Linked DNA regions of Homo sapiens: region 2 is linked to region 1. Evidence: fine-mapped expression QTL. A gene starts in region 1. The other region holds a variant in brackets. All regions are shown on one strand. Distances are between the middles of the regions.

Region 1 (2,932 bases):
CCACAGTTTTGGTTCCAGGCAAAGTGATGTAATGCTTAAACACATTACAGGATACAATTCCTCAAGAGTTTAAGGTAATAATAGCTGTCTACATTTGGTTGTTTATAATTATCAAACCACGACTTGTTTTTGACTAGTGGCTTTCAATTTACCCTATCTTTATCTAATGATCCCTTGATTCCAGAGCTTAAGTTAAATGTTGTGAAGTTAGACATAAACCCCGGAGAGAATTGTTCTATAGGGAGAATCAAAGGAGTAAAGAAACAACAACAAGGTAATATGAGTGAAGTAAATACAGTATTTTTTTATGAAGTTGAAATCATGCTTTACAAAGATTAATGGAAAAACTGGATACACATGTTTCAAAAGGTAGAAAAAATTGTCTGAAAGTTCAGATAGTAAAAAAGAGAAAAGGCAATAGGGAGCCACTGTATGTCCCTGAGCAAAGTTAATTACATTAATAGATCACTAGCAGATAAGCAGAGAGTGTTAACTAACTGGTCAACTTTCCTAATAGAACAAACCTATGTCAAGTCAGTTTCATAAGAATTATGTGACGATCTTCAAAGGTAATAAATGCCTGCAGGGTATTTAAGATTGAGCTATTCGCGGTGAGGAAGGGGGTAGTCATCTGACTTTTTTTATATGACTACAGATTGCTGCGATATGTTATAAGGTTTAGAATTCACTGATCTAGTCCAATTTCTTCCTTTTCCTGTGAGGAGAATGAAGCCAAAGAAGCGTTATGACCTGCTGGAATACTAGCTGCCTAAGTAACTCTATCCCTTAGGCTTTTTCAGCTTCTGTGTATAAGACAGGTGACCTAAAAGTTGTGTGCAGAATGGATTGGAGAGTTAAGTCCTGGAGGGAAGGATACCAGTTAAAAACAATAACAACGGCAAAACAAAACAACTGTGATATTAACCCATGAAATATTATATTAAAGTAGTCAGTATCAGGACCAACGAGAAAGAGGAAAAAATTGAATCACTTTAAACAGACCAAGAATGTAATTCACAATAAGAGATGTCGAAGAAGATAACAATTCAGAGGCTCTCAGATCTGATTCTGCGAAAAAGGTTTGTGATCTGGGCAATTAATTTGGAATCAAAAGAAAGATTTCAGAGTGCATTTCGAAACTTCTAGAATTGTCTCACACAAATAACTTCCTCTGGCTTTCTTTACCCTCCCTTTGATTACCAGAAGCTGAAAGAAAGGAATTAACTTCTTTCTGGCTCAAAGACATCTGGAAAACATATGACCTCCGTCAATATCTCTAACACCAGGTCCCATGATTCAAACTACACACAATCAGTAAGAAAAGGAATTCAACATGTGTGCTATCGGCTCACTTCCTTTCTTGTGTTTATTTCAGAGCAATAAATCAAGTGTTTTCTAAGTTCCTACTCCCAAACTCCTAGTCAGAAAAGGACTCACCTGCCATAGGGAACAGCCTCTGTCCTTTTTTACAGCGTTGGAAAGAGCCTCAGAGTCAAAAATGAAAGTAAACTATGTATTTCCTTATTGCAAAGGGCGGAAACGTGTAATTACAGATTGTGAAACTGCTGCTCAGAATTCCAGACTCATTATCAGGAAGTGCCTTGTCATCAGCAAATTGGCATCCAATTACTGGAATTTAGTTTCTGACTTGGGGGAAAAAAATGAAAATGACAAAATATTATCCTGTGGGTTGACACCTCAGCTTGTTTCTTTTCTTGTTTCCTGTGGCCACCCAAACTTCTTCTATCCATCTGTCTCTTCTCTTCCTGATCTCTCAGTTTTTCTTTCTCTGATTACAAAGAACGACAATGACTGAAGAAGTTTAATCTAACAACTCTTTTTCATTTCCTGATAAGAATTAACCCAATAGTTCATATTTCCAGCTTTTTGGGCAGGCACTGAGCTGCAGGAGTTTTTACATAGTCCAGCAGCTCCCGGAACTCTAGTGAGGCAGGAGTCCCGTCCACTCCCATGGAAAGGGGGCTGAAGCCAGGGAGCAAAATGGCCTTGCAGCAGGTCCATTCTCACAGAAGCCTGCAAGCTTAGATCCGCTGGATTAGAATCCCCACTAGCCAGCATAGCAGCCTGGAGTACGCCAGAGATGACCGAGTTCCCCAGGGGAGGGGCGACTGCCATTACTGCAGCTCTAGTCAGCGGTTTTTCCCTACCAGTGCTAGGGAGGCTGGGCAGATTGGACTGGGCAGCAGTCTTCACAGTGCAGCACAGCCGCTGTGGCAGATCATGGCCAGACTGCTTCTTTAGGTGGGACCGGGATCCATCCCTCCTCTCCCGGCAAGAAATGCTTGCAGGAATTTCAGCAACTCCACCTAGAGTTTACAGACAGAGCTCTCATTTCCCTGGTACAGAGCACCTGCGGAGAGGGGCAGCTGCGGTCTCAGGTTCAGCCAACTTAATCTTTCCTGCCTGCTGGCTCTGAAGAGTATCAGCGATCCAGACAAGGGGGATTCCCCCAGCCCAGTGCACCATCTCTGCTAAGGGATAGCCAGACTCTTTCCTTAAGTGAGTTCCTGATCCTGGGCCTCCTGACTGGGTTAGACCATTCAACAGGGGTTGCCAGACACCTCATACAGGAGAGTTCCAACAGGCGTCAGGTCAGTGATCCTCTGGGAAGAAGCTTCCGGAGGAAGGAGGAGGCAGCACTCTTTGCTGTTCTGCAGCCTCCATTGGTGATACATAGGTGAACAGTGTCTGGAGTAGATCCTCAGCACACTGCAGCAGACCTGCAGAGGAAGGGCCTGAATGTTGGAAGAAAAACAAAAAAAAATAAAACAACAATAACACAGCATCAACAAAAAAGACCCTACAAAAATCCCATCCAAAGGTCAACAGCTTTAAAGATTAAAGGTAGATAAATCCACAAAGATGACGAAAAACCAACGCAAAACCGCTGAAAATTCCAAAAGCTGGAATG
Region 2 (2,932 bases), 84 kb before region 1:
ACAAAATACAAAATGTCTAGGTATATCCTGATTCAGAAATTTGAGGAAGTTATACAAAGAAAAATATAAACATTTGCTCAAAAATTAAAAAATGCATGACAATAAATTTGAAAACCATAGCTCTAGATAAACAAATGTACACATTTAAATTCCATTAGAACCCTATTTTAATTATCAGAAAACTTATACAGTCATTATAAAATTTACCTGGAAACACACACAGTATGTGACTAAGGACAGTAAGAACAAGAAAGGGCTAAAGAGGATGATCAAACAGTAATTAGCAATGTAATACAGCATAAGTCCTGAAAGATGAATCGGTGAATGTAACACTAATTATCTCTACCATAAACAATTGCCCACTGTGTGGCAGGCAGTGCAACAGGGAGGTGCTACATGCACATAATATTATACCTGCTCAATATGAGTCAGATACTAGCACGCCCACTTCATACCTGGAAACTGGTGTCAGATAAGCTAATTTATTAAAAGTACCATAATTAGTAATCTGAAAATTTATGATTCAGAAGGAGTCATTACACAATGAAGATGCTAATCAAAGAGAATGATTACCTGATTTTCAATGTTCTAGACCATATCTCCAGAGACCTAATTGTGGTTTGCTTTTTATAATGGAGGAATATGAGATTACCTGTTGTATGCTTATGTCGAAACTTTTTCTTTAAGCTAGTTTGAGTGAGTTTTAATCCCTCGTAGTAAAAGTTTCTCTAAAGTAGATACCAATGTCCAGTATTTTTCTTAAATATCGTCCAAGACACCCATTCCATAACACATTATAAATTAATATTAAAGACAATGTTACAATTGGTGTATATATATATATATATGATTATATATATATGATTCAAGTGGTGTATCATTGACAACTGGTAATTCATTGGAAAAAATCAATAATATCCCCATGTCACATTTCACTGCAAAATCATATTGTTTAGAGAATGAATTCATAAAATTTAAAGGAGAATAAGATATTTAAATATATCTTTAATATAATTGTAAGAAATTATAGGTAGTGATACAATATTTAAGCTTGAAAATATAAAAACAAACACAGAAGAAAATATAAATGGATTCTATTACTGAAAATGTGAGTATTCCACATCACATATCATACAGAAAATATAATATCAAAGAACTAACTAAAAATATTATATGACCTAATGTTATATGAGCTAATACACTGTCATATATAAAGGATTTATACAAATTGATAAGGAAAACACATATAAAATTTGAAATAAAATTTAAAAAATAAATTAACAGTTCACTAAAACACAGCAAATAAAGTGGTTAGAATGTCAAATAATGTCGATAACAAAAGACATGTCAATGAAACTGACTATTTTTACCTATTATATCAGTAATGATTTTTTT[A/T]AAAAAAAATTCCTCTACCTACCAGTCATTATCTTGAATTTCTTCTATGCATATAATTTGGCAAAAAATTTTGGCAATAATTTATCAAACAGTTTAAGTGTATGGATCCAGTAATTCTACTTTTTAGTAATACATTCTAAGAATATAAACCTCTTTCTAGACAAAAGTAAAAGTTAAACATATTCATAATCATATCAACCTAAGTGCCCATCAATGATAGACTGGAAGAAAATGTGGCACATATACACCATGGAATACTATGTAGTCATAAAAAGAATGAGTTCATGTCCTTTGCAGGGACATGGATGAAGCTGGAAATCATCATCCTCAGCAAACTAACACAGGAACAGAAAACCAAACACCATATATTCTCATTCATAAGGGGGAGTTGAACAATGAGAACATATAGACACAGGGAGAGGAACATCACATACCAGGGCCTGTCCAGGGGTGGGGGCTAAGTTGGGGGAGGGCATTAGGACAAATACCTAATGCACACGGGGCTTAAAACCTAGATGATGGGTCGATGGGTGCAGCAAACCACCATGGCACATGCATACCTATGTAACAAACCTGCACATTCAGCACATGTATCCCAGAACTTAAAATAAATTTTAAAAAAAGAAAAAGAAAGAGAGAGAAAAAAAGAAAAGAAAGAAGAAAGAAAGAAAAGAAAGAAAGAAAGAAAGAGAGAAAGAAAGAAAGAAAAAGAAAGAGAAAGAAAGAAAGAAAGAAAGAAAGAAAGAAAGAAAGAAAGAAAGAAAGAAAGAAAGAAAATAAATAGGAGACTTCAGAGAAAATAACAGATAAGAATCAGGCCTAACTTGCAGCTCGCACCTGGACAGACAGAGCAGCAGGTGGAGCTAAGCTGTGGGGACACAAAACCGTAAGAATGACACAATTGTCTCTGGGGACTTAGGGGAAAGGGTGGGAGTGGGTTGAGGGATAAAAGACTACACATTAGATACAGTGTACACTGCTCGGGTGATGGGTGCACCATAAATCACCACAAAAGAACTTATTCATGTAACCAAACACAATCTGTTCCCCAAAACTTATTGAAATAAAAAAAAAGTAAAATAAAATAAATGAATATTGAAATCAACATCTAAAAGTCAGGTGAAAGTTAAATAGTATGCCCTATATATACCTGACGAATATTATAAACTTAAAAGTTATATTTAGGATAGTTTTATTACTAGTAGTAATGTTATAACAATATAATAAAAGCACACAAAATTGGATATACAAAATAAATAAGCTATATAAAAAACTTGAGTTTTTATGAATAGTTTTAAAAAGGTTGATGATGATTATTTCTTCATTTTTTATGATTTTTAATACTTAATTTTTTCTCCTATAAGCATGACTTAATTTATGACAAAATTAGAAAACAAGCACAATTTTATAATAAAAATTTATTAAGCATTAATTTAGCAAAAATATGAGATTGATTTTAGCCTGGTATTTGAAAAGGTGGACAGCTGAGCAGTTTGGTATAAAAATATTCTTAATCAAAAATTGACCTTTTCTAATA

Evidence for each region.
Region 2: its variant is fine-mapped to the expression of CASP4 in whole blood (TOPMed, PIP above 0.99).

Annotation. Positions count from the first base shown.
Region 1 is chr11:104,967,082-104,970,013 of GRCh38, forward strand. It overlaps CASP4 (caspase 4), which reads right to left and starts at 1,493. Exons shown (of 9, transcript NM_001225.4): 1 at 1,438-1,493. The coding sequence starts at 1,444. It overlaps LOC124902813 (a long non-coding RNA gene), which reads left to right. Exons shown (of 2, transcript XR_007062986.1): 1 at 1-1,079; 2 at 1,204-1,499. RefSeq lists an enhancer at 1,293-2,492.
Region 2 is chr11:104,883,137-104,886,068 of GRCh38, forward strand. It overlaps the pseudogene CASP12. Among named protein-coding and RNA genes, the nearest start is that of CASP4, 84 kb to the right of the region's middle. The variant A/T (reference allele first, on the strand shown) is at 1,396.